3 linked regions of the Homo sapiens genome follow. The protein of the gene in region 1 purifies or fractionates together with the protein of each later gene. This does not show direct contact. Each region holds a gene or a part of one and is shown in the gene's direction. Other genes may lie near its edges.

Region 1 (11,210 bases):
GCGCAGAGCGCGGGAACCAGGGAGCGCAGGAGGGGGGACCTGAGCCAGCGCCTGGGGGAGTAGGCTGAGGGACCTAGCGAGCGGGGCTTCCAGGGCTGGGGGCGTATCCCTGGACAGGTGACTGGAGGGCAGCCCCTTAGGGTCAAGGCTGATGCGACACCTAGAGAGGCCGGGCCTAGGCTAGAAAACGGAGGGCAGACCTCGAAGAGCCCCACCTGTGGCGGGGCGAGGAAAGGGCCTGAGGTCCAGGTGTCTGACAGTTGCTGGGGAATGATATAGAAGTGTGGGAGGCACTTTCTCCTATTTATTTTCACACGTGCATTGTTTGAGTTTTGAAGTACTGGGCCAAATACACAGCTCCCAAACACATGGTAAGCGCTCAGTAAAGTTTGTTGAAGGAAATAAATGAAATCGAGAGCGTGTGGTGTTTCCCTCATTACTCCTTTACCAGAAAATTTCTGCACTAGGTAAAGCACTTGGTAGGGGGCCTTTGTGTAACCAGGAATGTATGATGTTCCGTATGCATTATCTTATTTAATCCTCACAACCACCTTATCCATTTTACAGATTAAGCTAGGTTTAGAATAGTTAAATAACTATCGGGGTCATAGCTAGTAATTAACAGAGCTTAGTTTTGAAGCCAGGTCTGTCTGGCTTCAGTATTTGAACTACTTTTACCTGCTTCTGCTTCCAGTAATGTTATCTAATGCTCTCAATAATTTAGTCCACTTAGGTATTGTTTCTACCAGTTAACAAATGAGCAAACTGAAGCTCAGAAAACTTTATGCTGGCCAGTCCTAGTAGTGGCAAGACTGAAATCTAGGTCCGTCTGATCACCAAGACATGCCGATTCTTAGGAGACTGTGGAAGAGCAGAAAAAGTACATTCTTAGTCTATAAAACCTATAAATCAAACAGTTTCCTTTCGTTATTATTTATGAACATGTATTTGGAGTTTGGGAGTTTAGGTGAATTTTTGAAAAAAACAGGTGAAGATTTGTGTGGTGGAGTTTGAATTGTTATCTTTCACCTGTAGGTCTTTGAAGACTAATTCGATGTTTCACTTTTCTCCATAGATCTTAGTACAATGCCAGGCATATAGGAGGACAGTATTTAGGAAGTATGTGGGTGCCTGATGGTCCAAAATAAGAAGAGATAACACAGTACAGGAAAGATAGCTAGGGAGGGGGTGGGGGAGACAACCACAAGTAATTCATCTTTTCCCTTCCTTTCTTTCTTATGAAAAATTCTCAATCATGTATTTTCTACCATTTCATCCTCAAGGTCTCAGCTTTAAAGTCACTTTGTCAGAAAAACTTTCTCTGAGCACATCTTTAAGCATCCTCCCCTGATGCCATTATTCTCCATCAACTTGTTTATTTCCCTTGTAGGATTTGTCACAATTCATAATGTATTGTTGTTACCTGTTTTTAGCCTTTCTCCCGCATAGATTGCCCCTGGGAGCGAAGACCAGTGGTCTTCTTCATTCATCTACCCAGAGCACCTAGCACAGTTTCTGCCACATAGCAGGTGTTTAGGTATTGATGGAAGAAAAGAAGACAAAGATGGCAAATATTACATAATTTCTGCAGAGCAGTGTCTTTTACATTTGAGTAAAGGGAAAAGTTGTCATGAGTGCCAAGTGTTAATGAAAATTATTTTATTATATTGAATATGTATATACATAAGCTAGGTATAAACTCAAGCATAATACTCTTAAACAACTATAAAATCAAATATTTTTATAAATTAAAAGTAAACAAAACTACCAAATCAATAAGTTCAAATGACCATTATTCTAATGCAGGATTTCTCAGCCTGTTCCTATAACTGTGTTATATAGAATGGTATCAGTAACTTCGAGTTATTATTTGCTGTTTCAGAATAATTAGATATTGAACTTTTCGAAAACTCTGCCAACAAGAAACGCTCAAATGCCAATTTTAATAGTAGTATCACTTGATAACTGGTAGAGCTGTCTTGTTAATAATATAAAATTGCTTATGTGTATTGAGCACTAGCTATGTGGTTGGGATATGTGCTTTACACATGTATTAACTTATTTAATCCTCACAATTATTTTCTTCAGTTTATAGGTATGAAAACAGGCACAGACAGGTATAGTAACTTGCCTAAGCTTTCAAGCAAGTAAGAGGCAACTCAGGGATTCAAACCCAGGCAGTTGGGCTCCAGAGACCAGGTTCTTTTTTTTTTTTTTTTTTTCCGAGATGGAGTCTCGCTCTGTCGCCCAGGCTGGAGTGCAGTGGTGCAATCTCGGCTCACTGCAAGCTCCACCTCCTGGGTTCACGCCATTCTCCTGCCTCAGCCTCCCGAGCAGCTGGGACTACAGGCGCCTGCCGCCACACCCGGCTAATTTTTTTGTAGTTTTTTTAGTAAAGATGGGGTTTCACCGTGTTAGCCAGGATGGTCTCGATCTCCTGACCTCGTGATCCGCCCACCTCGGCCTCCCAAAGTGCTGGGATTACAGGCGTGAGCCACTGCGCCCGGCAAGAGACCAGGTTCTTAAGCACCGTGTTGTGCAACCTCTTAAGTTACTAACTTGAAGATGTGATTAGCATTGTGTCATTAAAATCTACATTAATTGGATTCCTAATCAATTTTCTATGGACTTGGTAACAGAAAAATTCTTCTTCGCCTATTTGTTACCACATTTACTGTCATATAAAATGGCATCCACATATAATCCATATTATATATCCATCCATATAATATGCTAAGTTCCTTTGGAGCAGTAATTGTATCTGATTTTGTTCACTCTTTTATCTCAAAGTATTAGCACAGTACCTGGGATATAGTAATGGAAATGTAAAATGGTACAGCCATTGTGGAAAATGGTATGGCAGTTCTTCAAAAAATTAAATAAAGGCCAGGCACAGCGGCTGACACTTGTGATCTCAGCACTTTGGGAGGGTGAGGCTGGAGGATCAGTTAATGCCAGGAGTTTGAGGCTAGCCTGCGCAACAGAGCAAGACTCCATCTCTACAAAAAAAAAATTTTTAATTAGCTGGGCATGGTGACACATGCCTGTAGTCCTAGCTACTCTGGTGGCTGAGGTGGGAGAATTGGTTGAACCTAGGGGTTCAAGGTTACAGTGAGCTATGAACCCACCACTGTATTCCAGTCTGGGTGACAGAGTGAAACCTTGTCTCTAAAAAAAAAAATTAAATATAAAATTCCCATACAATCTAGCAGTTCTACTTCAGGGTATATCCCAAAAGAAGTGAAAGCAGGAACCCAACAGATATTTGTACACCCGTGTTCACCAAGCATTATTCACAATCGCTGAGAGGTGGAAGCAAGTGTCAGTGCAGGGACGAATAGGTAATTGAGATGTGGTATATACACACAAGGGAATATTGTTCAGCCTTAAAAAGGAAGGAAATTCTGGCATGTGCTACAACATGGATGAGCTGAAATAAGCCAGTCACAAAAGGACAAATAATGATTCCACTTTTTTTGAGACAGAGTCTCGCTCTGTTGCCCAGGCTGGAGGGCAGTGGTGCAATCTCAGCTCGCTGCAACCGCCGCCTCCCGGGTTTAAGCAGTTCTCATGCCTCAGCCTCCCAAGTAGCTGGCATTACAGGCGCCCACCACCACGCCTGGCTAATTTTCGTATTTTTAGTAGAGACAGGGTTTCATCATGTTGGCCAGGCTGGTCTTGAACTCCTGACCTCAGGTGATCCACCTGCCTCGGCCTCCCGAAATGCTGGGATTACAGGCGTGAGCAATTGTACCCGACCTGAGTGATTCCACTTATATGAGGTAGCTAGAGTAGTCAAAGTCAGAGGCAGTAGAGTGGTGTTTGGCAGGGGCTGGATACGGAGTTTCATTTGGGGCAAACAAAAAAGTTCTGGAGATGGATGGTGGTGCTGGTTGCACAACAGTGTGAATGTTCTTCATACCACTGAACTATATACTTAAAATAGCTAAAATGGTAGATTTTATTATACGTATTTTACCACAGTATTTTTAAAAAGTTGGTTGAAGGAATATATTTTCCCACTACTTTTTTCTACCTGAACTGCTGTGAAACCTTTGTATATAGCATATTAGGCTATCATTTGGCTTTCATTTAAATTAAAAATACAAATGTAAATATGGACACTAAATATATATGGCCAGTTATAAGGTGCATTTACAGATAATAGGTATGCTTAATTTTAGATTTTTACTGGAATGAAAACAATGAAAACTTCTATAGGGAATTTGTAAATCCTAAGAATATGTCTGAGAAACCCATGGAGTCTGCAGACCCCCATTTGAGCAATATTGCTAAAGAGACTTTGTTGCAACCAGGTCAAAACCCCCATATCCTTAGAGACCATCCCTAGAAGATTGCTTAAGAAGCAGGTAATAGCGGCTGCTTCTGGGGTGGTTGACTTATTTTTAATGTACACCATTTTATATTGTTTAAATTATTTAGCATGTGTTACCTATTTTAAGAAGCAAATAATTGGGTCAGGGATAGGGAACCCCTTTGAAGTGCTTTGGAAATACATTGTTATCCAGAACTTAACACCTTTAAGTGGACATCTTGAGAAAGAAAACGATAAATGTGTAGTATGAAGCGTTTGAAGCACCTGAAAGTTGGGGCAGCGACTGGCGGTGTTTTCGGCAGTGTTCCTCTTCCTGCAGGTATCGCAGGACTTCCCTTTCCTCCACCCCAGTGAGACCAGTGTCCTGAATCGACTCTGCCGGCTCGGCACAGACTATATTCGCTTCACTGAGTTCATTGAACAGTACACGGGCCATGTGCAACAGCAGGTGGGTCCTGTTCTCTGTGGGTGTACACCTCTAGAGGGCAGGAGCTATGTCAAGCTTTCACCTCTAGAGGGCAGGAGCTATGTCAAGCTTTCAGTGAATTTATCGGTAATTCATGTGAAATAAGTTATGGATTTCTCATCACTAGAAATATTCAAGTGAAGGCAAGGCCTCTAATTGGTTTGTTTGTATAACTTTTAAAAGAAACAAGCCTGATAATGTCTTTCTCAGGTTTCAGGGCCTGAGCTGAGAAGTTGGCTTCTGTTTGTTTGATTTCAGGATCACCATCCATCTCAACAGGGCCAAGGTGGGTTACATGGAATCTACCTGCGGGCCTTCTGCACAGGGCTGGATTCTGTTTTGCAGCCTTATCGCCAAGCACTGCTTGATTTGGAACAAGAGGTAAGAAGGAGGAGATATAGGAAACACCTCTGGGACAGTAGATTAGGGCATGTTCTTGAATCTGAAATGCCCTTTGATAAGATCAGGTAGTTAAGAGTGAGCAGTTGCCTGCATGGCTGGAAGGTACAGTGTTCTCTCAGTGATTGCCCAACCTGTGATCAGAGTGGCTTACAGATCATGGCAAAGACTCTTTAGTGAGTTTATAAGAGCCCTGGCTTGGTTTCTTTATGGCCCGAAAATCAGGATTAATAACCTGATTAAATTATCAGTTCTCGATAGCCTAAAATTAACACTTAAGCCCATCATGAGATTCTCTTCTCATTTTCATAGATCAAATAGATTTGAGATATTTTGTGTGGAGCTCTAATCACAAAGTTTTTTATTGCAGTTCCTGGGTGATCCCCATCTCTCCATATCACATGTCAACTACTTCCTAGACCAGGTATGCTGCCCAAATAACCAAATGCCTTGCAATCTGTTGATAGTGTTAGAATAATCTAATTTATGGTACTGTTTTTGAGAACTTTTTTTCTTCTGGATTCAGAGCCTAACATTTTATATTTTGTGCATTTTGTATGTTTTACTAGATCAAAACTGTTTAAAGATTTCCAAATATAGTTAAAACTTAATGTCTGATATTAACGCTAATGTTACTGCTCTATATGGACATCAGTATTAACAAGTATGCCAGCCTCAGAAATAGAAACTGCTTCCCGACTGGGCATGGTGGTACACACCTCTAATCCCAGCACTTTGGGAGGCCGAGGTGGTTGGATCACTTGAGGTCAGGTGTTGGAGACCAGCCTGGCCAAAATGGTGAAACCCTGTCTCTACTAAACATACAAAAATTAGTCGGTTGTGGTGGCGTGCACCTGTAGTCCCAGCTACTTGGGAGGCTAACGTTCTGAATCCAGGGGTGGAGGTTGCAGTGAGCTGGGATCCTACCACTATACTCCAGCCTGGGTGACAGAGTGAGACCCTGTCTCAAAAAAAAAAAAAAAAAGAAAAAAGAAAAAAAAGAAACTGCCTCTCTCTGCCATCCTCTTCCTATCTGCAGCGAACCTCCACATCAAATTGCCTTAGGATGCTGGATCTTGACTGTTCTGTGGTATTGCCATTTTATCTTAAGTTGAACTATTTAGAAACAAAAGCATTTCCCAAGTTGATTTTTTTTCCCTTACATTTGATTACATACCCTTCTAATTATTCTCTACTTTGCAGTTCCAGCTTCTTTTTCCCTCTGTGATGGTTGTAGTAGAACAAATTAAAAGTCAAAAGGTGAGAACTTTCCTTATTCCTTTTGCTTTGCTAAGCACTGAGGGAATATTACTAATTAATTTTGCTTTACATTATTTTTCGAAGACCCTAGTTTTTAGTAGTTTTTATTTATTCATTCATTTAACAATATCTGCTTGGTTATCATGTTAAGTGTCAGGAATGCAAAAGTATGACTCTGCCTTTAAACACCTCCTGGTCCAGAAGGTAGAGGAAATGTTCATAGATGTTCCCAAGAATGTTGTTGGGGTAAGAAAAAAAGTGCTGTGGATGTTTGCAGGTGAGAGGAACCTGCAGTAAGGTTTTAGAACTGTTGGGTGTGAAGCAGAAAGTTAATTCTTAGGAAGAAGGTAATAGGTTTATGGTTAGTGTGCTGGCAGTTTTCTGAGAATTTTGAGATCAGTGAGTGAAAGCCAGATGTTTAATAAATATGCCTATTCTTATCACAAGTTTTTATCAGGTGTATTGAGAAGTTAGGAGAATGTCTTTCTGGGCAGAGTTAATAAGTCTGAGGAATAAATGCTTTGAGATTTCATATTAGAAGAATCTGCTGTCCTATTGAATTGGTCCACAATTGGACCAAGTGGACAAATGGATTAAACATCTTTAGCTCAAGTCGTCATTTTTTTTAAGCTCTTTATTTGTGCCTTAGCTTATTAGGGGTGTTCATTTTCATTAATGTAACTAGTAAACCAGTTAATCTGCCACATTGCTGCATCATTTTTAACTGTGTAAGTGTAGAAACAGTGCTCTGCTATGTTCATGCTGTGCCAGCAAAGCCAGTGGTGGGTGCTCATTGGCCCTTCAAAGCTGATTGTCCTCATCAAATAACAACATCCAGCTTTTACTGTCACTGGCTGTGTACTAGGCACTGTGCTAAGTGCTTTAAATACATTATCACACACAATCCACTAAAGGGCTAAGTTGGTTAAGGGGTGTGCCCAGTGTCACACAGATAGTAGTAAATGGGTTTATATCCCAGCTCTATCTGGCTCCAAAGAGTGTGCTCTTAACCACTAGATTAAACTATCTCCCAAAATAAAAGGAGACATTCTAGGCAAATAGAGTTAATGAGGACAGCATAAGGGAGCCAGGCCTAGCTGCACGTCTCAGTTGGCCTTCAACTTCCGCTGGCTATAGGAAGGAGAGTGGAAAATAGGGGGATTGCAGATGGCTGAATCTTCCTCCCTGCCAGAATAGTGGTAGAGAAACTAGTGTACCAAGGCTCTTCAGAGTTTTTAAAATCAGGTGGTCAAAATTCTAGGTTTGGGTTGAGAATGGAGATTGATTGCAGACAGGCACAAAGGCGCTTTTTGGAGTAGTGGAAATGTTATAAAACTGGATTGTGGTAATGGTTGCCCAGTGTTTGAAATTTACTAAAAATTGTTTATTAGTATGCTTAAAATGGGTGAATTTCATTGTAAATTATACCTCAAAGTGGTAAAAATAAAAGTCTGGGGACCGGGCATGGTGGCTCACGCCTGTAATCCCAGCACTTCGGGAGGCCGAGGCGGGCGGACCACGAGGTCAGGAGATTGAGTCCATCCTGGCTAACACAGTGAAACCCTGTCTCTACTAAAAATACAAAAAAAATTAGCCAGGCGTGGTGGCGGGTGCCTGTGTCGCACTACTCGGGAGGCTGAGGCAGGAGAATGGTGTGAACCCAGGAGGCAGAGCTTGTAGTGAGCCAAGATTGCACCACTGCACTCCAGCGTGGGCGACAGAGCAAGACTCCGTCTCAAAAAAAAAAAAAAAAAAAAAAGTCTGAAGAACATAGAGGCAGAGGATTTTTGAAAAAGTATATACCTTAGAAGTAGACTGAATTGGGCCTTAACTTGAAATAAAAAGCTTTCCTTGGCTTTGGTGTTCCAACTCTAAATGATTCTGGTTGCTTTAAGTGCAGTGGTTCTCACACTTTACTGTGCATTAGAATCACCTGGAGGGCTTGTGGAAACACTGAGTGCTGGGTTCTAACCAAGAGTTTGCATGTCTGATGAGTCTCCAGGTCATGCTGCTGATGGGAGAGAGGTCCCTCTTTGAGAACCACTATGTGTAAATCTTAGGAGAAAGTTTATCCCCAGTCTCTCCTAGATTGTGCCCTCTTGGTTGAATATGGAATAAGAATGTGTCTTGCATGGACTCTTAGAATGGAATCCAGTTTGACAAGGCCGTATTTTCCACAGATTCATGGTTGTCAAATCCTGGAAACAGTCTACAAACACAGCTGTGGGGGGTTGCCTCCTGTTCGAAGTGCACTGGAAAAGTAAGTCATGGCTTAACTGGGAATTGGTGGTGGAGGTGGGTGGTCAAATTATTTGACTTCTCACATGTTTTATTTTCAGGTCATTTCAGGTTTCCCTCTTGGGAAGGTTATAACCAGGATAGAAAAAGCTCCATGAGCAGAGGAGCCCATGTAACCTTTATTATGGCTCAGGCCTTGCAAAAAGGGCTATAGAGTGTTGAGTGACAAAGCCAGGATTTAGGTGCCTGGATGACCTTGAGGCAATCTTTTTAAATGTTTAGATCCTGTTATCCTTGCAGGAATTCCATTACATGTGCCAGATGTTGCTTGCTGTGTCTAAACATGTGTATTTGAGTAGCTGGTATTTTCAAATTGAAGGTCCTTAAAAATGTTTATGCTTTATAATCCCATAATGCCACTCTTGGGAATTTTATCCTAACAAAACTATTTAATAGAAGAAAATAACTATATGCACAAACGTGTTCATTGCAATGTTGTCTACTATATCAGGAAATTAGAAAATTACCAACAGTAGAAAAAAATTTAAATGATGATATATTCACTTGATAGACTATAAAGCCACTAAAAGTGTAGGTACTATAACATGTAAACTATTTTATATAAATATGTACTGACAAATGATACAAAATTGTATTTATCTTGTGATTACAACAATATGAAAACATGTAGAGTATAATCAAAGACTGCCTGTTTGAGCTTTCCATTTATCCATTTTCCTTATTTTAAAAAAACTGTGACATTCATTGAAAAATTATAATAGATGATCCCTGAGGCCACTCACAACTCTGTTTTGTTCTTTTTTTCTTATTTTATTTTAATTTTTTGTAGAGAGAAGGCTTTGCTATGTTGCCCAGGCTGGTCTCGAACTCCTAGGCTCAACCGATATTCACATCTTGGCCTCCCAAAGTGTTGAGATTACAGGTGTGAGCCACCGCACCCGGCCACTCACAACTCTTAATCTCCACTCTAACCACTGCATGAGTAAATCCTCCAGAACATTCCTTAGGGACTTAATTCTCTATTATACTTTTGTGTATAGAATATAAAATCTAATGTAGATGATACTATATATACATGTTTGTTCTGTGTTTGCAGGGACCAAACTTTACAGACCACATACTCAGAAATGCATAAATGTAAATAGCTTCACATTTGATCTTTTTAAAGAGAGATTCCATTCAGTTAAATAACACAGTCAAGTTCTTGTAATTTCTTTTTCTCCCAACCTTTTATTTTGAAAAATTTTAAACCTACAAAAAAGTTGAAAGAAACGTATAATAAAACACTTGTAGGCTGGGCTCGGTGGCTCACGCTTGTAATCCCAGCACTTTGGAAGGCTGAGGCAGAGGGATCGCTTGAGCCCAGGAGTTCGAGACCAGCCTGGGCAACATAGCGAGACCCTGTCTGTACCAAAAATAAAAAAATTAGCCAGGTGTGGTGCCTGCCTGTAGTCCCAGCTACGGGAAGCTGAGGCAGAAGGATTGCTTTAGCCCAGGAGGTTGATGCTGCAGTGAGCTGAGATCTCGCCACTGTAATCCAGCCTGGATGACAGAATGAGACCCTGTCTCAAAACAAAAAACAAAAAAAACCAACCAAACGCTAGTGTATCCTTTAGTTTCACCATTTGTTAACATTTGCCACGTTTGATTTCTCTTTTTCTCCTTCTATACGTATATGTGAAATGCACAAATTTTTTTGCAGAGTCATTTGAAAGTAGTCACAGATACCCTAACACTTAAATACTTCAGCTTGTATCACTTTAGAAAAAAGGCATTCTTGGCTGGGCATGGTGGCACACACCTGTATTCCTAGCACTTTGAGAGGCCAAGGTGGGTGGATAGCTTGAGCCTAGGAGACCAGCCCAGGCAACATAGTGAGACCCCGTCTCTACAAATACAAAAAAAGTAGGCATGCTGTGTGCGCCTGTGGGCCCAGCTACTTAGGAGGCTGAGGTGGGAGGGTGGCTTGAGTCCAGGAGGTCGAAACTGCAGTGAGCCATGATCGTGCTACAGCACTCCAGCCTGGGCAACAGAGTGAGACCCTGTCTCAAAAAAAAAAGAAAAAAGAAAAAAAGAAAAATAAAAGAAAAAGGGATTCTCTTATAGAACATCAATTCCATATTACACCCAAGAAAGTTAACATTAATTCAGTAATACTATATCCAAATTTTTCTAGTTGTCCCTCAGAATTCCTTCATAGCTGTTCTTTTTTTGCAATCCAGGATCCGATCAGTGTTCACATACTACATTTTGTTCTCATGTCTTTTTAGTCTCCTTTAATTTAGAACCGTCCCCCTTGCCTTTTGTTGTTCTTGGTGTTTTGGATGACGCTGACATTTTAAGAGTCCTGACCAGCTGTCCTGTATAATGTTTCACAATCTGGATTTATTGTTTCCCTATGATTAGATTCAGATTAAACATTTTTTGGCAAGAATACTATGTAGGTGATATTATTTCCCATTACATCATATTAGAAGGTACAGAAAGTAA
Region 2 (11,210 bases), on another chromosome or scaffold:
TCCTTCACCGTAGGCTCTTTTTTTCTTTTTTGAGACACAGTCTTGCTGTAGTTGCCCAGGGTGGAGTGCAATGGCGCAACCTCGGCTCACTGCAACCTCCGCCTCCCGGGTTCAGGCGATTCTCCTGCCTCAGCCTCTGGAGTAGCTGGGATTACAGGTGCCCGCCAGAACACCCGGCTAATTTTTTGTATTTTTAGTAGAGACGGAGTTTCCCCATGTTGGCCAGGTTGGTCTCGAACTCCTGACTTCAGGTGATCCACATGCCTCGGCCTCCCAAAATGCTAGGATTACAGGCGTGAGCCACCATGCCCGGCCTCATTTTCTTATGTAGCACTTGCAGAGGGGCTGCTGGCTTTTTCTGCACTGGTCCTGGTTTTCTTTTCAAAGAATTACACTTTTAGAGCCTTTGCATCTAATTTTTCACTTGTTCAGTATCTACCTTGCTGTTTTTCTGAGAATGTTACTCTTAATATTCAGCTTATTTTTCTATCCTTTTCGATGTATCAACACTTAATAGTTTTATTTTGTAAGTGGATTTATGTATGAATATATATATGTGTGTGTATATAAATATAAATTTACTGTCTTGTATATTTCCTTGGAAAAAGGTAGAGTATAAGACCTCACTTCTAGCCTATTTTCTTAGGTTAGCTGTACTTAGGTTCCTTATGTATATGGCCACAGGATCCCATTTGAACAGAAAACTCACATTTTCTCTGGTGGAATCACTGATGTACAATTGAGAACTGATGGTTTGTGTTGGCTGCATCATCAAGATCTCTTCTGAGAAAACTTGGTGTGAAATGAAGATTATAAAGAGAGTAAGAACACAAAAAAGTGAAGTAAAACAAAAAATGAAGGAGAGGGGATGTGGTGTTACACAGTATTTAAATCAACCCGTGAGATCAAAAATAAAATTTTCAAAACTTTTTGAATACCATTTCTCCCCTCAATGGTAGCATTTGTGAACCTCCCTTTAAGTCATGTGAATTGCAGAACTCTTGGCTACATTTGCATTTTGATCATGAAATGAAAGGATTTTGTTAAAGACATGGAAGGAAGCAGGCTAACTTTCTATTAATAAATTATCTGTGCACCTCACTCTGAAAAGAACTATCTCTGCCAATTTAGAATAAGGTCTGCATGAGATCTCTGCTTTCATCCTTATATCCCTAAAATTCTACACGCTTAAAATAGTCGTGCCTTTTCAACAACACCCCCCTCGCAACCCACTGTGTATGGTTGCCTCTTTTGCTTTTCAACTTTTTGGTATGTTAGGTACTCTCTATTGATTGCTTTTTATACCTTAATTTTTATTTTCCTCTAAAATCGTCCTGTGCATCTGAATTTTAATTTTGATAATTATTCCTTATGAGAGGCTTTATCATAGCACTATTTTTTTTTTTTTTTTGAGACCGAGTCTGGCTGGAGTGCAGTGGCGCGACCTTGGCTCACTGCAACCTCCGCCTCCCAGGTTGAAGCTGGGGATGGGAACCAATTCTCCTGCCTTGGCCTCTGGAGTAACTAGGATTATAGGCGCCCGCCACCACGCCCAGCTAATTTTTGTATTTTTAGTAGAGACAGGGTTTCACCATGTTGGCCAGTCTGGTCTGGAACTCCTGACCTCAGGTGATCCACCCGCCTCAGCCTCCCAAAGTGCTGGGATTATAGGCGTGAGCCACTGTGCCCGGCCTGTAGCACCACTTTACATATATATATGTGTATATATATATATATATATATGTATATATATATATATATTTAGTAGTAAGTACGGGTGCCTGTAATCCCAGCTACTTGGGAGGCTGAGGCAGGAGAATCGCTTGAACCTGGGAGGCGAAGGTTGTCGTGAGCTGAGATTGCGCCACTGCACTGCAGACTGGGTGACAGAGCTAGACTCCATCTCAAAAAAAAAAAAAAAAACACGTTATAGAGAAAGGAGTTAAGAGAATCTATGGTATATAGATTCCATTTGACTAGCACTGCAAGGCAGTACCAGCGAAACAGTCCATGCTACCACCATCAATCCAGTTGCACATTTGAGAAAGAAATCTAGAAGTCAGTCTTGCTTTCTCACCTCCTCTGCCTCCTGTTCTTCACTAAGCCCTTTCAATTCTTGACTCATTTCAGGTTGGCTAAATATCTCCTGTTCATCCTACCCACCAGTCTTTTATCAAAATTGTGATATAACTGGACTTTTTAAAGATTCATTTGATACTCAGCCAAAAAGTCCTTAAAATGCAAGTTTGATTTTTTTATGTTCCTATTTTATATCATCCAGTAGCTTTCCACAGTTCTAAGATCTTCACTAGGACTTACCTCATATTTTATACCCATTCACCCCGTTAATTACATTGCCTTCACAATAGCAGTTCAGGTCTGAATTTACCAAGTTCCCTCTAGTGTAGGGACCATCACACAAGCTGTTTTCTTTGCTCTCAACCATCACCCTTCCTCCTGCCTCTGTATTAGTCTGGTTGATTTCTACTCACTTTTGATGTCTAAGTGTAATTGTCACTTCTTCAGACAAGTCTTTGCTAAACACTGTGTCCTTCCAAACTTGGTAAGATGCCCTTGTAATTTGTTTCAGAAGTATTCCACTCTTTATTTATTTTACTTATATCTGGAATCAGTTATTACTTTAATATCTATCTCTCCTCCTGGACTAATATCTGTGAGGAGTGGGACCATATATACCTTGTTCATAACTGTATTTGCAGCAGTAGCATAATAGGCACAAAATACATATAGTTAGAGGTTGATTATCTCTCATCCAAAAACCTTGGGACCATGTTTTGGATTTCAGATTTTTTTTTTTGTAATATTTTCACATACATAATGAGATATCTTGGGGATGGGACCCAAGTCCAAACACAGAATTCTTGTATGTTTTATATATACCTTATACACATAGCCTGAAGGTAATTTTGGTTTTTTCCCTCAGGGATGCTGAATGAACTGTGTATTGTGCACCTGCATTTTGACTTTGATCCATTATATGAGGTGTGGAATTTTCCACTACGGTGTTATGTCAGTACTTAATAAGTTTTGGATTTTGCGGCATTTCACATTTCAGATTTTGGAATTAGGAGTGTTCAACCTGTACTGATCATATGGTAGGCACTAAAGAAATAGTTTTTGATTACAGGCGATTTGTGAAAATAGGAAGTAAAAATAGGTGTCCATTTGAAAAGAAGGCTTAAAGAAGAAACCACAAATGAGATGGACTAAGAAAACAGCATTGAGTTATATGAAGGGAGGATAAAAGGCAGAGGAGAAAAGCAAGAACAAAGGCATGAAGTCAGGAATAAGCATAGCCTTTATACGTGGGGGGGTCTACCATGAAGAGAACAAACTGGAAACTGGAGAGAGAAGGGAGAGAATCAACTGAAAAACTGTTAGAAGCATCATAGAATTCATCAAGGTGACTGGTGATTAAAAAGTTTAATATGTAGTGTTCCAGTATACTGATGGTAACCACTTAGAATGTACAAGGGCTAAGTAGAATCCATTTGTGAAGACAGTCAAAAATAAAGTGAAGATTCAATATGGTAGATTGAGCACTTGCTGAAACTCTAAGCATATAAAAAAATAGGAAATAGTAAGAAAATATAATTATCAGGATAGACCTGTTCAAAAGCAAGAAGGGAAGTCTCCATTGATTAGGAAGAGAGAGGTTTCCCCCCAAAAGAAAGGAGCAGATGGGAACCACAGCAGGGGATTGTCGGGAATAGAATCTGACAAAGCATGCTACCCTGCCTCACTGAAGTTGGGAGTCAGAAATGTGCCATTTGTCACAGCCAGAGATTGAGAAGCACCATCCATGTGTTTTTTGGATCTGGACCAAAAATACTACAAGGCCTGATCTAGAGGCCTAAAGCTAGGGTACGGCTTCCTATCTTAGAATGGGCCACCAGTCCAGGACACCTAAAATAAATCTATGGAAGATGAGTTTTCAGCCAAGAATGACAAAGCACCTAAGGTAGATGAAAAACATGAGCAACTAACATGGAAAAGGAAAAAGAGGGAAAGTGGTAGTAACAGGGAACTCTTTTTTATTGAGCCCTACCGTATGCCAAGCACCATTCCAAAGGACTGCAAGGCAGTGTCAGCAAAACAAATGGATACCATTCTAAGTGTATCCTTTAATTCTCACACTAATCCTTTAAAACAGGTACTCTTATTATCCTCACTTTCGAGAATGGTGAAATAAGGCACAGAGAGAGTAACTTGCCTACTAAATACTACAGCTAGAATTTGAACACAGGTAGTCTGGCTCTAGAGATCACACTCCTAACCACTGTCTTTTGCTGCTTGCTTATACTCCAAGAAATAGAGATAATAGAGCAATCTCAAATACAGTTTAAGAATATAGCCTTAAATAGACGAAGGCAGGAACAACAGCTGTGAAATTTGTCACTATAAATAAGCATTTAGTTATAAAACAAGTGTTTATGGTGAGAAATTAGAAATTAGAAATCTTGAAAGCTACTGAAATAAATTTGAAATAAATTCAGCAGATAATATGAATAACAGGCTGGATACAGCTGAAGAGCAAAGTATCAGTAAATTGGAATATCAAAACTGAAGAAATGAAAATGGGAAGAGCTGTCATCTTCCAGCCAAGATGGAGTAACAGAGATTAGATTTATGCTTCTACTTGAAACAACCAAGAAAACTCAGGTAAAGCATACAGAACAATGGTTTTCAAGACACTGGACATCAGGCATCAGAGTACAGTGATCCCTTAGAGACAGGAAACAAGCAAAGTGATTTCTTGGGTTGCCCCAGCTCACTGCCTTCAGAGAGTTCCAGGCCTCAGTATAGCAGGGAGAACCCAGTGGACACACTGAAGTGAGTAGGAGGAGTTTAGAAGACCTGGGAGACCAAGGCAGGTAGAGTTTGAATAACAGTACCTGAGAGGGGAGAACTGCACAGAAAGAATGCTGGAGATCTGTAGAAGTGTCCCCCTTAAGTATTCAGAGCATTGATTAGCAGATGTGTGAGGAAAGTACTCAGAAAGCTGGGAGGGAACCATCTAGAAGGATTAGAGTGAACCGTGCACCGTGCTTACACAGGGCTGAGGATAGTGCCTGTAACTACCAGCCAGAATGGAAATCTTTGTAATTCATAAGACATTGGATACAGTACTCAGAATTCTTACCTCAATCATAAGGGGAATAATTAGCCCTATCCTAAACAGGGCTCTGGTCCTGCCTAACAGATCTAAGAAGTAATATCCGAAAGGATCAAACCATTTCCAGATAACGGTATCTCATTATAAAGCTCAAGAATTAGAAATACAAAACTATCCGGTACCTAAGTAAAATTCTAAGTACATGGCATCCAATCAAAGATTACCAGATATGCAAGGCAGAACAGTATGACCCATGATGTGAAAAATTCAGTCAATTGTAACGAACACCCCCCCGATCACACAGATGTTAGAATTAGCAGACAAGGGCATCAGAACTATACTCCATATCTCCAAAAAGTTTAGTAGAGGCATGAAAGACATTTTTTTTTTTAAGACTCAAATTGAACTGCTATTTTTGTTTGTTTGTTTTTTCTTTTGAGACAGAGTTTTGCTCTTGTTGCCCAGGCTGGAGTGCAATGGCGCAATCTCGGCTCACCGCAACCTTTACTTCCCGGGTTCAAGCGATTCTCCTGCCTCAGTCTTCCAAGTAGCTGGGATTACAGGCATGCGCCACCTTGCCTGGCTAATTTTGTATTTTTAGTAGAGACGGGGTTTCTCCATGTTGGTCAGGCTGGTCTCGAACTCCCGACCTCAGGTGATCTGTCCACCTTGCTCTCCCAAAGTGTTGGGATTACAGGCGTGAGCCACTGCGCCCGGCTCAAATTGAACTTCTAGGGATGAAAGTGAATATCTGATATGGAAGAAATGGGAGGGACCTATCTCATGAACATGATAAATACTATAAGAATTTTCAGAAAGACTTAGACTTAAATTAATGGGTGACTAAATATTGATAACTTGTCCATTCTTCCCAAAATAATAATGTAGTTTTTATACAGTTAATCAGAATCCAGTTGGAATTTGTTTTTAGAATTGATGAAAAATGTTCAGTTCATCCGAAGAATAAAATGGCTTATATAAATGAAAGATGACAACGGAATGTTTACCCTACTACATGCAATATAAAGTTAGAAATTAAATGGTTGCCCTTACAAAAGATAGACATGTAACAAATTTGTAAGTATATGGGAATTTACTATGAATAAAGGTGGCATCTCAACTGGGTGGGGAAAACTTAGGTCATTCAATAAATTTTACTGGGGCAACTGGCTCATTTCTGGGAGGAAAAGTTAGATCCTATTTTCCACCCAAACTCTAGGGAGATAAATACTTATGGGGGGTTTTGGGAAATAAACTTCAAAGTGCTGGAAGAGAATACTGGTGGATATAATCTTTTCATGGGGAATAATTTTCTAAGCATAATGCCAAGGGGAAATGATATAGGAAACAATAGATAATATGTTGACAGTTGACTTAAAATATTCTAAATACTCTCTGGGAAGCAATCTTAAAACAAAATTCAGTGGAACCGGTGTACTTACAACCTGTAATGGAAGGGATTCTGAAAATCACTTTGGAAACCAAGTTTCTCTGTTTGTGCTTCTCATGTTAAAGACAATGAGTTCTATCAACTACAATAAAATGCAGTACTATACAAATGAAGTTTAAAAAATATAAGGTTTCATTTTTATTATTAGATTCAACAGACATGATTACGCTGTCAAATTGTTATAAAAGTTTCTAAACACTTTTAAAGCCTTAAATATGTACATTACCTTTTTTTGACTATTGTATGTCAATTCAGCAAATTAAATATGTATATTACTGACTGAGCAGTTCTACTTCTAGAAATTTATCCTAATGAAATAAAATTTAGTATGTACAGATTCTTACCAATATTATTTTAATGAGAGAAACATGAGAGCAGCCTAACTTTTAAAGTAACAGAGTAGTTAAGTATAGTGTTTCCATAAAATGGAATAATATGCGACTAGTTAAACTGCATTTTAAAAGAATACTAAAAAATAAGCAAGTGTTCAGAATTATCCTAAGTATGGTGGATACATGTTAGATATTAAACAAGTGCTAGAATATATAGCAAGATGTAAAAGGCAGTTATGTGAAGGGAAGGTGTAAGTTTATATTTATATTTAAGTTTCTAAAACTAAGTAAAGGCAAGAAAGTATTACATGCAGATTTCCAAAACCTGGGATGCTATGCTAATTCCTTGGTATTGTGCAGTGATATATAAATTAATGAAAGTACTATATGCATATTTTTAAATGCTGTAAGCCTTAAGTTTTTTTTTTTTTTGTATCTTTTTTCAGTTCTGCTTGAGATTTCAAGAATTTTGAATACTGGCTTAGATATGGAAACTCTGTCTATTTGTGTACGGCTTTGTGAACAAGGAATTAACCCAGAAGCTTTATCATCGGTTATTAAGGAGCTTCGCAAGGCTACTGAAGCACTGAAGGTTGGAGATTCCTATTAGTTCATTCTAAATAAAGATGCTTTTATTTAGAAAAATGATTAATGATGAAGTTATGGGAAACATCCTGGTTAAACAAGGTTAAACTAACATGCAACACCACTAGAAGACCAGGAGCTCAATAGTGTATGTTCATATCATAAAAATTACTACTACTAGGCCGGGCGCAGTGGCTCACACCTGTAATCCCAGCACTTTGGGAGGCTGAGTTGGGCGGATCATGAGGTCAGGAGATCGAAACCATCCTGGCTAACACAGTAAAGCCCCATTCTCTACTAAAAATACAAAAAAATTAGCCAGGCGTGGTGGTGGGCACCTGTAGTCCCAGCTACTTGGGAGGCTGAGGCAGGAGAATGGCGTGAACCCAGGAGGCGCGGAGCTTGCAGTGAGCCAAGTTGGCGACACTGCACTCCAGACTGGGTGACAGAGTGAGACTCCGTCTAAAAAAAAAAAAAAGAAAAATTACTACTACCATGGACCATGTTATGTTTTCCCAGAAGTCTGTTTTTAGAATTGTGCTATTTGGTGAGTAAAATTGTGCCTGCTCCAGAAGAGGCATGTTGAGGTCCTAACCCCTGGTCCCAATGAATATGACCTTATTTAGAAATAATGCCTTTGCAGATATAATCAAATTAAGATGAGGTCATCCTGGATTAGGGTAGATCCTAACCCAATAATTGGTGGCCTTAGAAGAGAAATTTGGACACAAATAGCCAAGGAAAGTTAAGGATTTTCTGTGGCCATAAGAAGCTAGAAAGAGGCAAGGAAGGATATTCCCCTAGAGCTGTCAGAGAGCATGACCCAGCTAACGCCTTGGTTAAATATGTATAGTAGGTATGGATTTCTGGCCTTCAAACTGTAAATAGATTTTTGTTGTTTTAACCCACCTAATATGTGGTTACTTTATTATGGCAGTCCCAGAAATCTGATACAGATTTTGGTACTGGGAAGTGGGGTGTTGCTGTAACAAATACTTAAAAGTGAGGATGTGGCTTTGGAATTGGGTATTGGATAGAGACTGGAAAGTTTTAAGGTGCTTGATAGAAAAAGACTAGATTTCCTTGAAGAGGAACTGTTAGTAGAACTGTGAATGTTGAGGCAATTCTGGTGAGGGCTCAGAAAGAAGAGAAAAGAACTGTAGAGAAAGCTTCAGAGTTTTTTCGAGACTAACATTAGGATCAGAATGTTGCTAGAAATGTAAATGTTAAAAGCACTTTTAGTGAAGACCCAGATGGAAATGGGGAACATTTATTGGACACTAAAAGAAAGGTGGTCTTTGTTAGAAAGTGACAGAATGGGCCAGGCACAGTGGCTTAATGCCTGTAATCCCAACACTATGGGACACCAAGGTGGGTGGATCACCTGATGTCAGGAGTTCAAAACCAGCCTGACCAACATAATGAAACTCCATCTCTACTAAAAATACAAAATTAGCCAGGCGTGGTGGCACATGCCTGTAATCCCAGCTACTTGGGTGGCTGAGGCAGGAGAATTGCTTGAACCCAGGAGGCAGAGGTTGCAGTGAGCCAAGATTGCGATATTGCACTCCAGCCTGGGCAACAGGAGCGAAACTCCATCTAAAAAAAAAAAAAAAAAAAAGAAAGTGACAGATTGTGGCTGAATTGTGTTCTATTGTTGGAAGGAAAATAGAATATGTAAGCAATGAACTTGGATATTTCATTGAGGAAATTTCCAAGCAAATTGTGGAAGGTGTAGCCTGATTTCTTTTTGCTGCTTAATAATGTGACACAAATGAGCAATCGAGTAAGGACCTGCTAAGAGAAAAGGAACTAGCATCTGAGAATTTAGAAAATTCTCAGCCTGTCTGAATAACATGTTCTGGAGACAGGGCTAAGAGTGTGGCTACACTTTTGTGAAGACATTAGGTATGTGATAGAGCCAGTCAACCATCTCAACACAAACACTGCCAGCTTGGACAGGATGAAGTGAAAGAAGGCTATCAGATTAGTGGGATTGTTTAGACAGGAAACTGGCTGATAGAGCTGCTCAGCTGAGGGCCCATGTGTTATCCTTCAAGAAAAGGAAAAAGTGACTCCAAGAGCGCCTCAGAGACCATGGGACTGCTGCTGCCACCAGGTTCCCAGAGGGCCACCTTTTTTCCAATTCAAATTAACCACGTTTTAATTGCTCAGATTGGCAACTAAAAACATGTCCTATTCTGTCTTCCACAGACTTTCTGATTTAAAAGCTTGTGATTTTATTTCCCTTTTTATATAGCACTAACTCACTTTGAATACTGAAACTTTAAGTTAGTTCATCTTAAAACTTGTCCAAAACATGGGCTCATAGAGACGGTCAATGGGGGGAAAAACAAACAAACAAATAAAACCTTCTGATACCTGATACAAAGTGACTTCTCTTTTTTCTTACCTTTAAGAAATCAACTATTTAAAACATGCAATTTACATATCTTTCAGATTATTTTCCAATGAGTTCTTATTCTTTAGGTTTGTTTTTGTGCTTTTTAAAATCTCTTGATTATTAAATCTAACTAAAAAGGGTAAACCACATTTGTAGAGCTAAAATGTATCATAAAGAGAATATCCATGCAACCATCACTGCCAGCACCAGATAATCCCCCTTCTGCCCTCTCCCCAGTCACTAACCCCTCTCTCTTGCTCTCCTCTCCAGTAACTACTATCCTCACTTTTATGGTAGACTCTGTATTAGTCCATTCTTGAATTGATATAAAGAAATACCTGCCGGGCATGATAGCTTAAGCCAGTAATCCCAGTACTTTGGGAGGCTGAGGTGGGCAGAGCACTTGAAGTCAGGAGTTCAAGACCAGCCTGGCCAACATAGTGAAACCCATCTCTACTAAAAATAAAAAAATTAGCCAGGCATTATGGCAGGCACTGTAATCCCAGCTGCTCGGGAGGCTGAGGCAAGAGAATCACTTGAACCCAAGAGGCGGAGGTGGCAGTGAGCCAAGATTCACACCACTGTACTCTAGCCTGGGCAACAGAGGAAGACTTCCTCTTAAAAAAAAACAAAAACAAAAAAACCGGAGACCAGATAATTTGTAAAGAAAAGAGGTTTAATTGGCTCATAGTTCTGCAGGCTGTATAGAAAGCATAGTGGCATCTGCTTCTGGAGAGGCCTTAGGAAGGTTACAATCATTATGGAAACAAAGGGGGAGAAGGCATGTCACATGGCAAAAACAGGAGCAAGAGAGGGAGAGAGTGAGGTGCCACAGTTTTATGTAACCATAACTCTTAAGAATTCACTCACTTTAGCGAGTACAGCACCAAGAGGATGGTGCTAAACCATTCATGAGGGATGAATTCAGTCAACTCCCACCAGGCCCCACCTCCAACATTGGAGATTACAATGGAGATTACAACATTGGAAATTACATTTCAAGGTGAAATTTGGGTGGGGATGCACATCCAAACTATCATTCCCTCGCTGGCCCTTCCCAGATCTCATGTGTTCTTCTCACATTGCAACATACAATCATGCCTTCCCAACAGTCCCCAAAAGTCTTAACTCATTCCAGCAATAACTCAAAAGTCCAAAGTTCTGAGACAAGGCAAGTCCCTTCCACCTATGAGCCTGTAAAATCTAAAACAAGTTATTTACTTCCAAGACACAATGGGATTATAGACATTGGGTAAACATTCCCATCCCAAAATGGGTAAATCAGCCAAATGAAAGAGGCTA
Region 3 (11,210 bases), on another chromosome or scaffold:
TATTCTGTAAATTCCTGAAAACCTTTTCATTTTTATTTTAAGAAGTTATGCTATACTGTCAACGTGCAACAAATACTTTAGAAAGTCTACATGGTATACTAGTATGTTTCTGAAATATTGTGCTTAGTAGAAATACATATATCCATGTCTTTTAAATTTTTCAGGATAAATACTTGGGCAAAAATATTTATTGGTGTTTTTTTTTAGCATGATTTTGCTATTTCCAAGTAGAAGCAAAACTTTAATTTGTTGATCTTGATAGTGTGGAGTAGTATTTTAAAGTAAGTATATTCACTATAAATTTCCTGTGAATATCTGTATCATCCTTATATAAGAGCCATTATATATTAGGAAAATAATTAAGTTCTTATTTAGGAACTCCTGGAGACAAAGACAACTGATATCTACTTAAGGAAGAAATTATTTTTGAAATATAACTTTGAGTAATGTCTGCCAACATGTTGAATTAACTATATTATGAAAATTATCTTTTTTCAAAATTTTCAAAAATTAAACAAAATAAAGATTCTCTCATTCACTGTAAACTCTCTGAAGTCTCTCCATTATTCATTTAGTTTTATAGTAAGAAGGCTCTTGTTTAACAAAGACAGCATTAATTTGCAAATCAAAGGCTTGGATCTTTCAGGGTCATGGATTAACGATAACTCTTGGTAGATTCCCAACATTTCTGGCAAAGTGAGTGCTCTGCCCCCACAAAATTAACAATGTTTGTGTATTAATTGTATTTTGAAATGATTGTCATCTTACAGAAAAGTTTTAAGAATAGTACAGATAACTCCTGAGCATTACCCTTTGGCAGATGCACTTTATAAATTTTGCCACATTTGCTTCATCATTCTCTTTCTCTTCCTCTCTCTGTCTCTCATTCTCTCTCTCTCTCTCACACACACACACATTTTTCTTTGCCTCTGAAACATTGAGAATAGTAGACTCAGTCTCAGATCTGTCACTTCCGGCCAGGATGCTTTTAGGCAATTCTCTTAACCTTTCTGGGTCTCATTTTTTTCCTGTACACATTTAAGATGACATTTAACTGTTAGGGTTATTGTGAAAATCAGATAAAATGTATTGGAAGTACCTGGCACATGGTAGGCACTCAGTACACTATGGTGTTGATACTATCATTGTGGTCATCATGATCATCACTATTATTATTTTAAGCTTTGTATAAAATTAAAGTTCAGAAAAAAATTCTGTTGCTTCTATTGAAGTTGTCCTGATTCAGTTATTTCAAAGAACTTCTCTAAACTTGTTATTGGTACTTAGTTTTAGAAGGAAATCACCATTTAAGAAGAAAAGAATAAGACTTTAGCGCTGTTTTCAAATGATACCAAACTTCTGTTTCCTAAAGTTTCAGAGGCTGAGTTATGCATTCAAACATGTTAAGGACCTAGAAAAAAGGAGAGGAAATTTCTTCTTTGTAACAACTGAACTCTTGCTATAGACACTCTTCAACAATAGTACAAATGATTTGGTAATATTTTAACTTTATAGCAGGTGTTATTAGAAAAGTTTATTTTATTCGCCAGTCTTGGGCATTTTTGGATATGCAGGCTGTTCTTTGTTTTCATCTCAGACTTTTCAGTTTTTCATTTGGGCCTGAGATGCCAAATAAAGCACTTTTTAAAATGTAATACAGTAATGTGCTACCAATCCTGATGGCAGACTTTAATCAAAATTTTTGAACCTCTAAAACTGTCGTTACTCCAGTAATGAAACAGAAGCTTCTGAGCCTGCTGAGCTCCTCTTAAAAGGTCCCTACTCTAAAGCCATGTGTTTATACACTGCCAGAAAAAATAAACTGCTGCCGTCTCTTTATTGTTGTCTACCTTACTATTCTTTATGAGTTTGGTGTTCTGGTTTGCTTCCTCTTTGAAACTATGGAGGTTAGTGAAGTCATTTGAGATCTGTAATGCTGAGGGCAATGTTAAGCTCCCACTGTTAGTGAAAGAAAAGACAGAAAACCCCTTCACTGCAAGTCAGGGAAGAAAAGTAACATTAATTGAATCCTGCTGTATGTTAGGCATCGCTCTATATGCCTTACAGACTAAAAAAAAATCACATTTGTAGATGATCATGAGTCAGTCAATAGCAAAAGTAAGTTGTGTTCAGTGTACTTTAAGAGAGCAGCAAAGTATATAAATTATTTTAGAAAAATTCCAACAAAATGGCTAAAATAAGGTATTACTGTATGAACAAATAAGCTGTTTTCTTTTGAGGAACCTTTTGTTCCATGAAAATCCTGGTTAACTTTAGCTCTTGTCATATTCTGTTTTATTGTTCCATGAAAATCCTGATTAACTTTAGCTCTTGTCATATTCTGTTTTATTCTCCTTATGCTCATAGTTGTAATATTACCAACAATATGAGTGATACATTAATTTTTACAACCTAGCTTATGATAAAATTTATTTAGATGTAATAACATTGATTTTTATATCTAATTCCTATAAGGTTTGCCTCGAAGCATAAACACAGACACTTTATCTAAGGAAACAGACAGTGGAAAAAATCAGGATTTCTCCAGCTTTGATGATACTGGGAAAAGTAGTTTAGGTGACATGTTCTCACCTATCAGAGATGGTAAGTCTGTTCAGAGGATCCTGTTCTCTTGCTGGTAGTTAATATTTTTATTCTGGCTAAAAGATGTGAATAATAGCTTCAGTCCAACTCTATTCACGGATCAGTTTGCTAATTTTCTCCATCCCTGGGGTGGTATCTTTTTCTTTGCCCTGATATTTCAAATGTTATCATTGTAAAATATATGCTGGTAATTTTCACATGGGAATTATGCAAATAGCTCTCAAGTTAGCATTTTAATTTCCACAAAAGTTTCTTGAAGGAAGTTTTTACCTTCATAGGCAATCTGTCCCTTGTATCTACTTCTAAATTAATGTTCCTAAAATTTTAGATGTTTTGGTATGCAAAAAAGTCTTCCTAATTTAAAAAATTGTGTGTGTATAGGTGTACACCTCCCACCACCCCATAAAAAAGTTGGCATAATAAAAAGCAAATTTGCCAGCTTGATAAATAGAAGCATTATTTGTTATTCTTCATAGTGTCTGAACTAAGTACATTGTTTAGGTGTGTCTTTTTGGTACTAACATCCATAATGTTTTTCTTAGTGGAATGGAGTTACCTCATTGCTAACAGCAATATTAATAACATGGATACATTTCTAGAGGGTAATTTGACAGAGTTAATATATTCATACTTTTTGGCCTTGTATTTACATTTCTACAAATTTATCTCAGAAAATACTCAGAGAAGCCCACAAAGATTTGTGTATTTATTATTATAAGTGTACCATGTCAACAGCAGGATCTCGAAGTTGTTTCATCCACTCATTATCTTATACAATTTCATTTTTTACTTTAAAATTGTCTCTTTTCCAAATGTTCTACAATTTTATAGTCAGAAGGAATAAATACATACGTGGTGGTACAGAATTATTGAGTATCTTCTGCCTTACCCTGGCCTGCAAATTTCTATTTAAATTGCTAAGTCAAACTGAAAGAGGAAGGATTCTTTTCTTTCAGGATGAAGAGAAGTCGAACTACATCAAACTACATTGTAAAGGGTAAACAGAGGGACGGATGTAGGTGGAGAGAAAAGTGACTAGTGCTGGAGTTGAGAAAGGTTTCTGGGATTAGTGCTGAATTGCGAGTTTTGGCCAGTGAGACTCCTCTGGAGGAACTTTTGCATTGAAGAATGTACAAAGGGGCTTTTTGGAAGTGTTTGAGTTATAAATTAAATTCTCTTTAATAGTTTTTAAGACAAATGAATAAATTACTTTTTTCTTTAATTACTTTTGCTATGTTTAAAAATGTTACTAGCATTTGAGTCATACGCCCTCCAGATTCATTATGGTTCCAAAGTATTGATAAGGAAGCTAATAACTTCTAAAAGTGTGCATGTACATGCTGTGCAATTACTGGGAACATATACACACATGCACATAGATGATATTTCTCCTGATATAGTTGTGTGTTTATTGGCCATTTGAATTTCTAGTAAATTCGTTAATGACTTTGGCTCATTTTTAATTCACCTGTTAAATTTGAATTTTACAATTTTTGTTATGGACTGGCAAATGAATATTACAGGATTAAAATAATCTTATACATATTCTACCATGGAAATAAACACTAATAAAACTTTGTTCTGCTTTGCAAAATATTTTTGTATTATTTCAATTGATCCTCAAAGCAATTTTGTGAGCTTATCTGGACATTATCCCCATTTTATAGATGCAGAAACTGAAACTTAATTGCATCTGAGACTTGTCCAAGGTCACAAAGCTATTAAGTGGTATAGGCAGAACTGGATTATAGCTCTCCATAACCTACCCCCTACACCAGGGCTTGTTACACTATACCTTGCTGCCTCATTAAATGACTGTACTATAGAATTATCTGTTCATATTTGCTGCTAAAGTGTGAATGAAGCTAAAATAATGTAAAAGAGAAATTTAAATCAGTATTCTCCTACCTTTAACATCACTCATATTTAGCTTTTTAAGATTGTTAGTCTCTGAACTCTTTGGGGAATGAATAAGAAGCCTAAATTGATATGGTTTCTTTTTCACTAGTTTTAAAATTTGATTTTCTAATTTGTTATAGATGCTGTAGTTAACAAGGGAAGTGATGAGTCCATAGGCAAAGGAGATGGTAAGAACTACTTAGAAGTATTTTCGTGAAAATGAAAAGTGAATTGTATTATCTATGCTGTGTAACAAATCTCTCCAACACTTTGAGGCTTAAAAAAATAAACATTTATCGTCTCATAATTTCTGTGTATTAAGAACTGAGCATGACTTGGCTGAGTACCTTTGCCTTCAAGTCTATCTTCCTGCTTCAATCAGGATGTCAACCAGAGCTTCATTCAACTTAAGACTCAACTGGGCAGGGAACTGTTTCCAAGCTCATTCCTATGGCTGTTGGCTGGAGATATCAGTTCCATGCCAATGAGCTTCTTTATATATGGGGCAGCCAACAACATGGCAGCTGGTTTACCTCAGAGCCGGTGAACAAGAGAATTCGAGAGGGCATCCAAAATGGAAGCCCTCTCTTAAGATTATGTTAATAACCTTAATCTTGGTAGTGACATCTCACTACTTTTTCATATTACTTTTGTTAGAAGCAAGTTACTAGGTCCAAGCCACGTTCAAAGGGAGGAGATTACCCAAGGATAGCGACGCCAAAGGCAGGGGTCATTAGAAGCCATCTCAGAAATTGCCTTCCAAGATACATACCACAGATATATACCAAATTAACAATTTTCAGTTATCAAGAACTAATACTGACTAAAACATTGTGTTTTGCTGTTTTCAAAGTATTTTCACAAATAATATCTTTGAAGCCTTACCACTCTGGGAGATGGATATCATCATTTACATTTGTAGATCGGGAAATAGTCACAGAAAGTTTAAGACTTTTGCCCAAAAATACACATCAATTGCGGGGTGTATCTGAGAAACAAACCAGTCTTCAGAATGCAGATCCATATCTTCTTCCATGTTAATCTGCCTATCATGTTAAATGCTTTTCTTCAATGTCCAAAATTGGAGGACACCATATGCACATGCAGTTTTTCCCTTTTCCAGGCTTTGACTTTCTACCGCAGTTGAACTCAGTGTTTCCTCCAAGAAAAAATCCAGTAACTTCAAGTACTTCAGTATTGCATTCTAGTCCTCTTAATGTTTTTATGGGATCTCCAGGGAAAGAGGAAAATGAAAACCGTGATCTAACAGCTGAGTCTAAGAAAATATATATGGGAAAACAGGAATCTAAAGACTCCTTCAAACAGGTATTTGCCTGAAAATGATACTGAACTCACTGTATGTGTTTATCAGTAGAAAGTGGGTGGCTGCCAGTGCATGTATCCTAATTATTAGCATTGCTATGCACTTATTCATAAGTCTTGATGTCAGATTTTAATAACTACAGAATACTTTGAAATCTCGCTTTGGATATGTTGAAGGTTACAGCAGATGGAAAGTTGCAGTATTTTTCTAAGATGAGATACTTGATATATCTTGATAAAGTGTGCAAGAACAGTTTATCCCTGAATCCTTTTAAAGTGTATTTCATTGCAGTATACAACATCAAGTTGGTGGTTAAATCATTAGAGCAAACTGATGGTGCTGAGAATGGAATTTATCATTGTTACTTTCTGCTAAAATATATATATATAATACAGAATTTAATTTTTTATGTAAGGGTTCAAAATGATCAAAAATTACCAGGAAGGCCAAGCCAGTTGGGTATACAATATGTCTGTATTTTCGTATTTATTGTTTAGAATGATATTGAAAAGATACCATGTAAGAAGTACAAAAACATCTTTTGATTTATTTTGCAAATATTATTGACTGGTTACCACATGCATGGTGTTTTTGTTTTTGTTTTGCCAGTTATCTCTATTTTAAATGATACTTAACAGCAGGTGCTTAGTAAATGAGCTTTTCCTCATGTTATTGTTGAGATTGTTTTTGATTAGTAAGTGTTACTTTATTTTGCCTCCAGTTCTCTTTTTCTTTTTCTTCTTCTATATCTCTTCCTATTTTCCTTCATTTCTATTAACCTACATACTGGGACAAAAGAGAGAAGTAGGCAAAAATTATATGGGTAATATGAGTAAAAAAATTGTATATTAAAGTCATTATTTATTTTAAATATAAAGTTAGCAAAGTTGGTCACATCTGGTGCTGAAAGTGGAAATCTAAATACCTCTCCATCATCTAACCAAACAAGAAATTCTGAGAAATTTGAAAAGCCAGAGAATGAAATTGAAGCCCAGTTGATATGTGAACCCCCAATCAATGGATCCTCAACTCCAAGTAAGTACATGAAACTTCCTGATGTTTGAAAGTGTTTGATTGAAAAATCATCCCCATTATTTAACTTGTAAAGGAGAAATAGAGTAATCATAGACTAAAAATGTTCAAAGAGTTTAAAGTTTGTGGACACTTCTGTTGTGTGAGTGTTACTAAAGACAATGAAATGGATATGAATCGTTAAATTCAGGTACGTTGATTTGATCTTTTGGTGTGAATTAGATTTTCAGTGTAATATGTGTCTTTAATATGGTAGAGATAGAATTATTATGTAGGACCCTTTGAAAAGGGTTGGTTAACTACCTGAAAATGTCTTTTTCTCTTTCATATTAAAGTCTTATCCTTAGAGTTTGTGCTGCAGACCCATACAAACTTCATCACATTTAAAGGAATATTTGGTTTAACTCTAAGAGTTATCTACACAAAGCAACTCTTTGTTTACAATCAACTCTCATATAAATATCTATATTTTGCTTGAAGTTTTCTGTGGATATATATTGCATTAGCTTAAACTCTAAGGCTTTTCCTGTAGCAGTACTTTACTCCTATTTTCCTTCGGTTTGTTTTTAATAGTCTTGGTTTATCTAGTTTATGGTGCAGCTTGTCACATTCATCTTTTATAAGAGGAAATGGTTCATAGATTCTTCAAGATTAATCCCTCTGTCATGTGGTATTACATTAGACAGCTGGCAGTTTATATATATAGATAAATGACTATTAGAAATAATGTTATAGAAAGTTTCTAAGATTTGTATTCCAGACAGTGAATTTTTCTAAATGTCACAGGAACACTCTTCTTTGCCAGTTTTTCAAGTTTGCACATGCCAAATCTTATTTAGAAATGTTTGATGTCTCTCAGTCCAAGTTGACTATTAATATTTTCTTCATTCTTTATTTTAGATCCAAAGATAGCATCTTCTGTCACTGCTGGAGTTGCCAGTTCACTCTCAGAAAAAATAGCCGACAGCATTGGAAATAACCGGCAAAATGCACCATTGACTTCCATTCAAATTCGTTTTATTCAGAACATGATACAGGAAACGTTGGATGACTTTAGGTAGTAATTGAGAAACTACTCCTTCTATCTAGACCTTACTTGTTTTTTTTTTAGATGTAAAACCAGAACTATAGATAATGTTGTTGGTTACTATTGTCTAGGTTCTGGTAATCCTAAAGCCATAGAAAACATAATGAGTTTTGTTGATCTTTTCGTACTGCATTTATTGATTATGAGCCAGGAAAAGGCACATTTACCTAGGGCAATTATTAGGTAACTCAGCAGGGCAGTCTAGCAGGTAGACTGCCATTGTGAACTTTTTTTATTATTAAAATGTGGACAAGTTCTGGTAAGCTTAAATTGGGTTCTTAACCTGCAGTATGTTCATAGATCTATTAGGTATGCTGTGTGCAATAATGTAGTAGAAAAAGATACTTTAAAGCACAATTCTGAATGTTTTCCAATAGAATGCATCAGAATGTAATACTTAATCTAAAAAAAATTCTTTCTCAGACTTATCCTTGTCTGTCTCATCCTTCGAATTGTGAACATTCTAAGAATGTGTTCTACAATGCTGCTTTCTTTTATCATCTCAATATTTTTGGAAGCTATCTTCAATTATTAAAATCATTGGTGCCTTTTTTCCTTTCTAACCTATAGTTAATGTTGTAGCTCAGATTTGGATTACCGTAAGCAAGAATGTTGGAGAAAATGTGCAGTTTTTGTTGGTGCATGCTTCCTTTTAATGTTTTAAAATACTTTTAAAATATATTTTTAAATGTCGAAAAATACTTTTTAAAGAAAAATTGTAATTTTGGCATTTACCCTACCTAGTATATGTACCAGATACTAAGGATACATCAAATGATCTGCCACAAAGGCCTTGTGATGTAGTTGGGCTAGGTGCAGTGTGTTCTGCCATGTGTGTTTCTCTTAATGTGAATTAATTCATTTGGGATCAGTAGAATAGAACACTGTTGACAATATGATGAGGAAATTTTGTTTGTTCGTGTAATAGCAGCCAAAATAAAGTACACCTGAACACAGCTGAATGCAGCAAACCCCGTCAGCATCCATCTCTTTTTATTCACTTCCTCTTGGCTTGGCTGTGTGGTCTGTTAGAAGTACTTATTTTGTGATTATTTCCCATCTTTGGGCATTTTGCTCTTGCCTCTGTAACTTGATAGCCGCAATCCTTCTATCCTCTTCCATTAAGTGACCATCACTTCTTCACAGTAAGGGTATTATTCAATAATTATCTATTAGATTTTTACTATGTCTTTTTAACTATGTTAGTATTTTTATTAGGATTTAATTGTTTTTGTTGTGCTCTGGTTACAAAGTTGCATAGGTTTTTGAGTGCTTTGCCCTAATCCTTTTTCCCTAAGTTCTGTTATTTTTAATACACAGTGTTAAAGAATATACGTTTTTTTCAGGAGTGCATAAATATTTATGGCATAATAGTAGAACTGTCTGGATACAGCTGACTATAATACAGTGTGAGCAAAGTGATGTTGAAATCACAGAAAGGGAGCAGTTCTTCTGTGGGGGCAGATTTAGAAAGGTACACTGAAGAGATTTTATTTTATACTGATGTGTGTGGGAACAGCTTGAGCAGAGACATGATCATACATTCTAGGAATGTTTGCAGAGAGAAGGCACCGTGGTAAGAGACCAGGCCTGAGGGACAGTTGTGAAGGTCTTAACACACAGGTAATGGAGAGCCATCAGAGTTTTTAAGCACAGGAGTAATGGGTGCTGTCTATTTATTACCCATTTATTCAACAAGCATTTGGGTGTCAGTTCACCACTGGCTTCAGATGATTTGAGGACAGTGGGCTCAGGGCCTTTCCTTCAGCAGACCCAGGGATCTGAGTGCTGGAGCAACTCTGAAATCGCTGTGCATTTCTGCCCTGCTGCCAGCTTTCGGGGTGGCTGGAGCTTGTTTTTCACTATCTAACCTGTTCCTGGCTTTCTGTGCCTCAGGAGAAGTGTGTCTGTCCCACTTTCAGCCCTGCAGAGCTGCTGCAGCACGTTTGGTGAAGACGTACAGTCAGTGCCTCTTGGTTTTGCTGCCCTGTGCTGCATGTCTGCACCTAGGAGTGGTGGGTAGGGACTTCTCTCAGCTCTTCTGCCCTTTGACCATAGGCAGCCTCTGCCTGGGACGCAGTGAAGACCCAGAGTGGCTCAGAGGATTTCCATAAATTCACTTGTTTTGCCATTTGCCTAGGTGTTCATCAGACTAGGTGTTCATCTACACCTATCATTGGCAGGACAGAGAGGGTATTGAGGACCTCTTTCTCAGCCATCCTCCCGTGGCTGCCATCTTCTCCATGAGAGCCTGGAGTGCCTTAGAGGGGTTACTCTCAGTTCTTCTCTGCTGCCCTAAGGTTTCACCAGGCTCTGTGCATCTGTATCTTAGGGAGTCTCCCTCAGCCCTCCTGTTACACTTGTCCCTACTTTTTTTACATGAGCGCTGAATGAAGGCTTGTGGGAAAAAGTTGGTGAGTAAATTGAGACTCTCCTTGTGGCTGGGACCCCTTGGAATTCTAAACTATCAAGCAGTGTTTACTTGGCTTTTAAAAATCTTATTAAAATTTCAGCTAGTTCTTTTTACTCTGTCAAGGGCATGAAGATGGGTCTCTTTTCTCCTAGTCATGGGTCTCTTTTCTCCTAAGAGGAACTCCTCATTTTCTGGATTTTAGTTCATTTAGATTTCTTTCCATTCTCAGCTCTCGGTTGAATTTAAAATAATATGATTTTATAGGTTATCAGGTTTGTTTTCGTTATTAGAGTTGAGAAATTATACTTTTGCACCAACCTAATACATCCTAAGTGGAAATCTGTGCATCTGTTTCTGTTGTCTATTAAGAAGATTTAAGTTTCTTTTGGCAAGCAGATCCCTTTGATCCTTTGGTTACTAGGTTCAGGTTTTCTTAGCACTAGTTTGTTTCCAGTTTGCCTTTATTCCTAGTGTGTAGTCTTTTCTAGGACATCAGCTGAATGTCTGGAGTATTCACTGTCTTTTTTACCTTGGTGGGTCCCAAACTTCAGCCTCTATTTTGCCAGCATCACAAGACTTCCAGAATACTTTCTCTGCTCTTTAGTTACTTGTTTTTTGGTTGGTTTCCTGCCATCTAACCCAGGGGGAGCATTGCTTAGAAGTCAACAGATGTCTTGAGGGGAAATTCCACAGTTTCAGGCTTAGTTTTCTGCAGGCCTCCTCTCTTCAAGACCTTGGCTCTTACAGCCTTGGCTACCTTGGTAGGCCCAAACTCTTAATACTCCCCCACCCAGCGAGACTATCTCAACCTCCAGGCCACTGCTTCAGCTCGGTTTCTTCTCCACACTGTG

Evidence for each region.
Region 2: the proteins of TUBGCP4 (region 1) and MZT1 purify together in Homo sapiens (affinity purification with mass spectrometry; 3 studies listed by BioGRID and IntAct, with this or other methods). This does not show direct contact.
Region 3: the proteins of TUBGCP4 (region 1) and NEDD1 purify together in Homo sapiens (affinity purification with mass spectrometry; 3 studies listed by BioGRID and IntAct, with this or other methods). This does not show direct contact.

The regions. Positions count from the first base shown.
Region 1 is NC_000015.10:43,371,443-43,382,652, forward strand, and holds part of TUBGCP4 (gamma-tubulin complex component 4), read left to right. Parts: intron 1-4,655; coding exon 4,656-4,784; intron 4,785-5,012; exon of another isoform or gene 5,013-5,060; coding exon 5,061-5,183; intron 5,184-5,571; coding exon 5,572-5,625; intron 5,626-6,404; coding exon 6,405-6,461; intron 6,462-8,641; coding exon 8,642-8,721; intron 8,722-11,210. UniProt on the Homo sapiens protein: Component of the gamma-tubulin ring complex (gTuRC) which mediates microtubule nucleation.
Region 2 is NC_000013.11:72,715,253-72,726,462, reverse strand, and holds part of MZT1 (mitotic-spindle organizing protein 1), read left to right. Parts: intron 1-7,365; coding exon 7,366-7,511; intron 7,512-11,210. UniProt on the Homo sapiens protein: Required for the recruitment and the assembly of the gamma-tubulin ring complex (gTuRC) at the centrosome.
Region 3 is NC_000012.12:96,937,934-96,949,143, forward strand, and holds part of NEDD1 (protein NEDD1), read left to right. Parts: intron 1-2,475; coding exon 2,476-2,604; intron 2,605-4,643; coding exon 4,644-4,691; intron 4,692-5,626; coding exon 5,627-5,829; intron 5,830-6,705; coding exon 6,706-6,862; intron 6,863-7,759; coding exon 7,760-7,916; intron 7,917-11,210. UniProt on the Homo sapiens protein: Required for mitosis progression. Promotes the nucleation of microtubules from the spindle.